3 separate regions of the Homo sapiens genome follow, and all the other regions are linked to region 1. The links come from fine-mapping of genetic effects on gene expression. A gene starts in region 1. Each other region holds a variant in brackets. All regions are shown on one strand. Distances are between the middles of the regions. Region 1 holds the start of TOX2 (TOX high mobility group box family member 2). Region 2 overlaps TOX2 (TOX high mobility group box family member 2). Region 3 overlaps TOX2 (TOX high mobility group box family member 2).

Region 1 (2,757 bases):
ATCCTGGTGCCACACAAGAATGCCATTCTGGCTGACTTCGCCTCCTGGCCTCTCCCAGTCAGACATACCTGGAGCAGTCAGTGAGCAGTGAGATTGCTAGGGGAGATTGCTAGTGTAGACAATTCTTGCATGAAAAGGGGGATGGGGGTGCAACAGTCTAGCAACCAGCAAGTGATATCAAGAACTAGAGGGTTTTTTTTTTTTTTTTGGTTGGGGAGGAACCCCATTTCACAGTCACCTTTCTGACCCACCATCAGAGCCATCCCATTCCAATCTCATTTTCTTCCTTTCCTCACTCCAAGAGACCGTGACTGTGGGCAGATCCTAGACCCCTCTTCAGAGCTTCGGGCTCTAGGCATTCCTGCGGCCCTCCCCTCCCTATCATTAAAAGGGGTGGGGTCCTGCTGCCTTCTCCAAGTGGTTTCAGCTCTGGATCCTTTGGGGGCAACGGAGCCCACCCGCCTGGAGCTCCATTACTGATGCTGCAAGTTTTTGACTCAGTTTCCCCATATGTGAGTGAGAGTTTAAGCGCGGCAATCTCCAGGGGGGGCTGTCAAGCTGACTCAGATCAGTGAGACGAGGAGGGGGCGGGCATGCTAAGAGCATCCTCCGGCGCTGGCCTGCGTCCCCCCAGGTAAGGCAGCACCCATCTCCAAAGTGGTCCTGTCACCACCTTCCTCTTCCCCCCGCACCCACGCCGCGGGGCGGGGACTAGCGCCGCCTCAAATATTTAGGGCAAGGGAGTGTCCCACTTCTGGGGAGGGGTGCCGTTCGGGCTTCTCTCCTCACCGTGGGTGGCGAAAGGCGGGACGGAAAAGCGCCGTCTGGACAGGCGCGCCCCCCTCAGGGATGCAGGGCCGGGCGGGGGACCCGGCGGCGGCCCAGCCCGGAGGAAGGACCTCCACGCCCCGGCCCGGGCCCCCGGGCCCCCGGCCCTAGGCAGCGCCCGAGGCCGGAACAATAGCGCGCGCGGGCGGGGCGGGGGCGGGGGCGGGGCGCTCCTCTGGGCACCGCCCCCGGCCCGCCCCCCGCGCTCGCAGTCCCGCTCGCACACTGGCTCCCACCCGCCGCCCGCCCAGGCACTGCCCGCGGGAGCCGCCGCCGCCGCCGCCGCGCCCGCCATGGACGTCCGCCTGTACCCCTCGGCGCCCGCGGTGGGCGCGCGGCCCGGGGCCGAGCCGGCCGGCCTGGCGCACCTGGACTATTACCACGGCGGCAAGGTAGGCGGGGGCGGGCGGGGGTCCCCGGCGGGCGGGGCCGGAGTCACCTGGCAGCTCGGGACTCAGGCGCTCCCGGGGTCACACGGGGCCGCGCACATCAGCCCCGCCGACGGGCACGGGCGGCTCACATCGATCCCCTCGCGGCCACGCTCACGCCCTGAGTTGTTGGGATCGCGGGCAGAAGTCATCCCGACAGCCACCCGTGCGACGACACAGTGGCCCCTCACTCGCGTCCCCCTGACAGCCTCGCAGTCATTCACAAGCCGTCACAGTGACCCACAGCCACACGCAGGCGGCCAGGCACTGCTTACACGGTCCCGCCGTCCCACGCAAGTCACCCTGACAGTCACTTATACACAACGACACGCAACCACTCACCCGCAAACAGCCTCACCGCCACAGACGAGTCACCCACAGACGCTCCGATGCCCCACACACCGTGACATGCCCCCACCCGCTGTCACACCCAGGCACAACGGGGGACAGTCACACAAAGAAGTCGCCCGACAGTCACACTCTCGCAGCCACAACGCCTCACCCAGGCGCACGCTGTCACACACAGCCACCCCCCTGGACGGTGAGCCTCAGACACAGATCGTCCTGACGGCCACACAGTCACACGCGGTCACACCCAGGGACGGCCACACCTCGGTCATCCACACTCGCGCGTCGAGGTTTAACTTCTCAGCGCCGCAGCACACTAATTGGGCAGTTTACTAATTGGCCGTCACTGCCTGGCGGGGCCTCGGATTCCGAGTAGGCTGCGGCCAATCGAGGCCTGTGTCCTCCCGGGAGCGGTGAGCCGGCGTCCCTCCAGGCTGGGGCTGTAGTGCCGGACACCCTCCCTCCTCCATGTTTCCAGGATCTATCCCCCCACCCCAGCCAGGTCCCAGCTGCGCTGCGCCGGGCGCATTCCCAGTGATGGAGGCTTGCGTGCCTGGAACCCCGAACCCGAGGCGTCAGGTCCCACTGCCGGGTCTGGCCCAGCCTGGATGGGTTGGGTGCCTCTAAGCAGTCCGCGTCCCCTTCGGTCGCCGGAGAGGGAACTTTCAAACTTAGTTAGGAAGCCAGACTGTCCGCGCGTCCGCCAGTCGGTGCGTCGGTCCCGGGCCGGCTGGAGCCAAGCGCGGGTTTTCGTCACTCGGAGCCCGGATTGAACAGCGCGCGTGGGTTTCCCGCAGCCCTGGCGCAGACGCGTGGGCTCCGTGGCGATGCGGGGTGAGTGCGCGTCCAGTGGCTGGATCGGCGCCCCCCAGGGTCTCTCCCCAACCTCGCAGGCTTTTCGTCAGGCCCCTGGTAGTGGGGATGAGGCAGGAGAGAGGCGTCCCGGCGCGGATCCCGGGGCCTCCCGGGCTGGGCCTCCCTGAGTGCGCCCTCAGGCCCCAGGGGAGCGGCTTCTGGCAAAGCCTCCCTGCAGTTCGCCAGGGGCAGCAAGCATCCAGGCCACTAGGGCCTGCGCGATGTGGGGCGGTGGTGGGCGACAAGTGAGGTCTCGCGAAGAGTGGCGGTGGTTCTCTTTTGTCCAGTGACCTGCAAA
Region 2 (2,757 bases), 35 kb after region 1:
GGAGTAGCAATTGGGTGGACCTGGATTTTTAGCCTTTGGTCTCTTGACTTCTAGTTGTGAGGCTTGAGGCAGCTCACTTAACCTCCCTGGGTCTTCCTTGCTGTGAAGAGCAATTGAGGCCATGGGAGCAGCAGCCCCCTAGTCATGGGGGGATTGGTGTAGAAAGGCAGCTTTGATTTGCATGTCCTCACCCCAGGGGCTCATCTAGAAGGAAACAGTTACTCTCAATGGCCCTTTTCCTGATTCACACCCTCCGTCACCTCAAAATGCCCCTTCTACTTTGTGCCCACTTTTTATATATGACTGTCCACCCCTCGGCTTAGGCCACAAATGTGGGATCATCTTTGACCCCTTTCTCTGCCTTACTCCTTGCATCTAATCCAACTGCACTTGCTGCTGGCTGTACCTTCAGGGTGCAATGACTTCTCCCCGCTTCACTATTACTTGTCACCGGGATGACCGCAGGAGCCTCCTCCCAGGCCTCCCTGCCTCCACCCTTCCTCCTTAGTCTGTTCTTCTCGCAGCAGCCAGTGGGATCTCTGAGAACCACCTGATGCGCACATCCCTCCCTGCTTAAAGCCTGTGGTTGGTTGTCTTTTGTAATCAGCTGGATCTGTTCTGATACCTTTAATATACCCACCTGGGGGAGCTGGGCACCTGTCTGATCTCACTTTTTGCAGTCCACAAGCTAGCTTCTGCCTCCTGCAGAATCACTGTCCTGCCACCTCCTAAATCCGCTTCCCCACTGACCAAGCTATTGTGCCTCTTAATTTTACTTTCAGACCCCTTTGTCTGGAATGGTTCTTTTACCCCTTGGACTCCTGTTTATTCTCGCAGGTGTGGTCACGACATCCACGGCTTTCCAGAAGCCTTCTCTGATTGCCCCCACCGTCTAGCCGCAACTATCAGAGCCAGGGTCCCCTTCCCTGTGCCCGCTTCTGTCATTGTCCTCCCCATCAGTGCTGTGATGCTCTGGGAGGACATCACCCACGATGATGCACCTTTATTCTCACACGTGCTGCAAGGCCAGACAGCACAGAAATGTTAATTTAGGCAGTAGATGCAAAAGACCTCCCTGCAAATTAAGGGCCTTCAGACCTAGACAGACTGGAATAGGATCCTCAAACTGGTTTGATTTGGCTGTGACCTTGGACAAGCCACCTAGCCTCTCTGCTTTGGAGGGTCACGAGGATTGACGAGATGACATGTATAACAAACATCCTCCTCTTTCCCACTTGCTGGATTGTAAGTGTTCCCAAAGACACTTGGAATGTTTAACCCCTCACATCTGCTCTGAGCAGAGCAAACTCAACAATGCATAGACGAGCCCACCACAGAACCCCAAACAGGAGCAAAAATAGCAGCCATCGGGGCAACCTGAGATGCAGAAGCCACAGGAAGAAGCCGCAGGCCAAGCGGATGTCAGCGGCTCTGAGGCCCTGCTGAGGTTCCTCGGATGTGCTGAGCTCTGCAGCCCTCTCGCCTGCCCTCGCTGGCTCCCCAACCACAGCATCAGATAAGGCCGGTGGAAAAAGTGCTGGCTTCCTCT[T/C]TCTGGGGAGGGGTAATCTCAGTGCCATCTGTGGGGCACACTCCATCCCCAGTTGCCTCTCTGGCCTCCCCTCCCCCTCCCCACTGCTTGCTCTGCCTGTCTTTGCTGGTCTCTTTGCTGACCGAGGTCACACCTGCCGGCAGCTCCCATCTTAGGGCCTGTACACAGGCTGTCAGGCCCTGGAATGCTCTCCCCAACACATCTACTTGGCTCACTCCCTCACCTCCTTCCAGTCTTGGCTCCACTATCACTTCCTCAATGAGGCCCACCTTGACTGCTCTGTTTAAACGTGCATACCCTCCATCTCGACATTCCCAATACCCCTCACCTGCTCAACTCTTTCTTCTTTCCATATACCATGTAAGTCACTTATTGACTATGTGTATTGTTTTCTATCTCCAATGCAAGAGCGTAAACTCCAGGGGTCTTTGTTCACTGCTGTCTCCCAGGATCCCAGAATAGTGCCTGGCACAAAGTAGATGCACAGCAAATACTTTTTTGGTGCACGGACGCATGAGTACATGAGTAAGAACCAGCCCAGCAATCAGAAGAGGTTCAGGCTAGATTTTGGGGTGAGGGGGGTTTGTTTCTGGGCTCCAGGCCCCAGGGATGGGCTCACGTAGTCATTAAGGATTCTGGCCCCATGATTGACCTGCATTGGCCAGAAGCCCCTGCTGACCTTCAGGGCGATAGCTGTCTGGGGCCAGAGAAGGGTCTGGAAGCCTGTGGTCCCTTTCAGGAGGGACCCTTGCAGTAGTTAAGAGTTTGGCTTTGGAACCACATTGCTGTGGGTTTGAATCCCAGCTCCACCACTTCCTAGGTAGATAGCCTTCACGTCTACCTCTCTGTATTTGAGTTTTCTACCTTTAAAATAGAGTAGATAGGCCGGTGTGGTGGCTCACGCTTGTAATCCCAGCACTTTGGGAGGCTGAGGCGGGTGGATCACTTGAGTACCGGAGTTCAAGACCAGCCTGGCTAACATGGTGAAACCCCGTATCTACTAAAAATACAAAAAAATTAGCCGGGTATGGTGGCGCACACCTGTAATCCCAGCTACTCGGGAGGCTGAGGCAGGAGAATCACTCGAACCCAGGAGGCGGAGGTTGCAGTGAGCTGAGATCGTGCCATTGCAATCCAGCCTGGGCAACAAGAATGAAACTCCACCTCAAAACAAAACAAAAGTAGTGAATTCTGACCTTGCTTGGGTG
Region 3 (2,757 bases), 30 kb after region 1:
TTTGGTATGTCTGAAATTTTCATCCATCTTTGTATCGCGGTGCAAAATGCACCTCTCTTTTGCCTTGAGACGAGTGTCATGTGCCTTGGATCTATGGGTTGTGTGCACTTTCTATCTGGTGAGCACGCACTGTGTGTCAGGCCCCATGCTGGGAGCCAGGACCCAGAGATGAGCAAGACAGACGATCCTGACCATCAAGAAGCTCAGAGCCTAGAGAAGAACAATAAACACAGAAACAAAAGCCATCAAACACATGAACAGAAACGATTGGCTGCAGGAGTGTGCTATGGACAAAGTAACTCAGGTGCAGGTGAGATTAGAGGAGCTCTCTTTGGGGAAGAAGGAGATCTTTGAGCAGAGCTGGAAGGATGAGAAGCAGTCAGTTGTGTGAAGGTCAGGGGAAGAGCATTCCAGGCAGAGGGAACAGCATGAAAAAGGTACAGAGGCAGGGAAGCAAGACTTTTTTCCTTTCTGGAGCCTTTTGTAATCCCCCTTCCAGCCTCTCCCTCCTCCTGCAGACACGCTGGGCACCAGCCCCCTTTATCACATGACATTTGCTATTCCCAGGCCGTTCTCTCTGTCACTTACTTTAGTATTGTTACAAGTGTTCAGGAATAGGATGATTCCCCAGAGCGCTTCCTGCTTAGTCTGGATCCTCTCAGCTCTGTGGTGCTTCCTCAGCAGCCTTTGCTGCTACTGAAATGTCCAAAAAATTAAAATTAGTTTAATAGCACCTGGCATAGTACATGACACTTAATAGGTACTATTATCCCCATTTTACAGGTGAAGAAACTGAGGCTCAGGGAAGTTAGCCATTCCAGCAGGCAGAGCTAGGATTCGAACCCAGCTCTGTCTTATTTCAAAGTCTGCCTTCTTCATGGAGCCCTAGTTTAACTGCATTTGTGCGAAAGCTAATGAGAGACTGCTGGTTAATCCTTAGTGCCCGGGGCCAGCTTTATCCCAAGCCCGATCAAGGCTTGTGGTGGGTGACCTTGGCCTTTGGCCTGATGGCTTCAGAAGAGTGGAAAGGAACCAGGGGAGGTTCTTATTTTTTTGTTTTAAATTACAAATGTAATACACGCTTGTGGTAAAGAAAAAAAAAATGAAACAAGAAAGAAAAAAGCAGCCACTGAAAATATCTCCTCCTCCCTAGTGTAACTGCTATTAACAGCCTGGTATCTTTTATAGTGCATGTTCAAACACATACATATACACCGTTATTGTTTTTATAAAAATGGAACCATGTCCTTGACTTTTTCTTGCAGGCAGTTCCAAGTCAGTACCTACACACCTTCCTCATTCCATCAGATGTATTTCAGTGTATTCAACCAGACCCTGGCTTTCGACATTTAGCTGTCTCTAATTCTCTCTGTAACAAGCAACATCCTTGGGCATGCATCCATGCACTGAGTACAGGTATTTCTGCAGGATGGATGCTCAGAAGTCTAATTGCTGAATGAAAGGGCATGCAAGTTTCACACGTTGACAGGTGCTGCCAATTTGCCTTCCGAAGGCTCTTCCAGTGCAACACCCCTCCCAAGGCAGCGTGTGTGAGTGGGGAAGGCTCTTAAGCCACAAATGACGTGGAGCCGCGCTGTACTTAGGGGCTGCCTCCCCTTCTGCTCCCCGAGACCTGGCGTGGAGACCGCCACCAGGAGCTCCGAACACGCAGGCCCAAATTGGAATAGGAGATGGATTTTGATAAAAGAGGTTAAATAACAGGTTTTTCCATTTCACCTTATACGAA[T/C]GGGATGGGGGGTGGGGGTGCTGGGCCTCCAGCCAATAGAGGACCAAGAGTTGTCAGGAGGGCTTATAAAGCTTGCTATTTCTGGCATTTTTTCCTCTTTCTCTGCTGATTATGCAGCAGACTCGCACAGAGGCTGTCGCGGGCGCGTTCTCTCGCTGCCTGGGCTTCTGTGGAATGAGACTCGGGCTCCTTCTACTTGCAAGACACTGGTGCATTGCAGGTGTGTTTCCGCAGAAGGTAAGCAGCGGGTGCCCACCGCCCCATGAGGTGGAGGTGGTCAGGCCGTCACTGTGGGCTGAAGATAGGTGATGTCTGGATGGGGGCAGGCAGGGACCTGGACTGGTGCTTGTCACATTCTGGAATGAAGATGCTTTAGAGGGGCCAGGAGGCCTGCAGTTGGCAGCTCCTTCTTGGAGAGGAATTCTGGAGGCGGTTTGGGCTGTCCTCTGGAGAGCAGGGTCAGGCTGTGGCCTTGGTGCCCAGGCTGCTCAGGATCATTCATTCATTCATTCATTCATTCAGCACACCCTGCAGTAGGCCTGGCCAGGTGTGGGTTGGGGGGTCTGGCTGATTCAGACTGGAAACAATGGGAGCAGTAATGGGGATGGCCCATGGCTTGGGAGGAGCCCAGAAGATACCTGGGCTGAAGAGTGACAGGGGCCTTCCAAGAAGGCAAGACGGGTGAGAAGCAGCTGAGGACGTCACCAGGAATACCCGAGCTGCCTCTTCCACTAGATTTTGGAGTTTGGGGAATCAATAAAAATTTCTTGCCAAATTTGGTGAATGCCACCTTTTCCGTTTGTGAAGTAAGGACATTAAAAAATAACCAGTTGGGATCTCTACGCAGCATACTTTCGTAGAAGAAAGGACAGCAACAAATGAGAAAGGAACTAAGGGGACTTAAGGGGACACACATGCCCTTAATAGGTGGCAGAGATTTCAAATGCAGAAACCTAACGTGAAGGGGCCATCCCAGCTGTGCCTGGGAGGCTATCTTGGTGATGGGAGTT

Evidence for each region. PIP is the estimated chance that this variant, and not a neighbour inherited with it, causes the effect.
Region 2: its variant is fine-mapped to the expression of TOX2 in whole blood (INTERVAL, PIP 0.97).
Region 3: its variant is fine-mapped to the expression of TOX2 in whole blood (INTERVAL, PIP 0.91).

Annotation. Positions count from the first base shown.
Region 1 is chr20:43,913,771-43,916,527 of GRCh38, forward strand. It overlaps TOX2 (TOX high mobility group box family member 2), which reads left to right and starts at 1,082. Exons shown (of 9, transcript NM_001098797.2): 1 at 1,082-1,220. The coding sequence starts at 1,122. RefSeq lists silencers at 733-852, 953-1,052, 1,073-1,182, 1,233-1,322, 2,393-2,452 and 1 more and enhancers at 819-1,536, 1,537-2,254.
Region 2 is chr20:43,948,862-43,951,618 of GRCh38, forward strand. The region is part of intron 1 of TOX2 (TOX high mobility group box family member 2); the gene reads left to right. Among named protein-coding and RNA genes, the nearest start is that of TOX2, 35 kb to the left of the region's middle. RefSeq lists an enhancer at 1,714-1,803. The variant T/C (reference allele first, on the strand shown) is at 1,550.
Region 3 is chr20:43,944,055-43,946,811 of GRCh38, forward strand. The region is part of intron 1 of TOX2 (TOX high mobility group box family member 2); the gene reads left to right. Among named protein-coding and RNA genes, the nearest start is that of TOX2, 31 kb to the left of the region's middle. The variant T/C (reference allele first, on the strand shown) is at 1,748.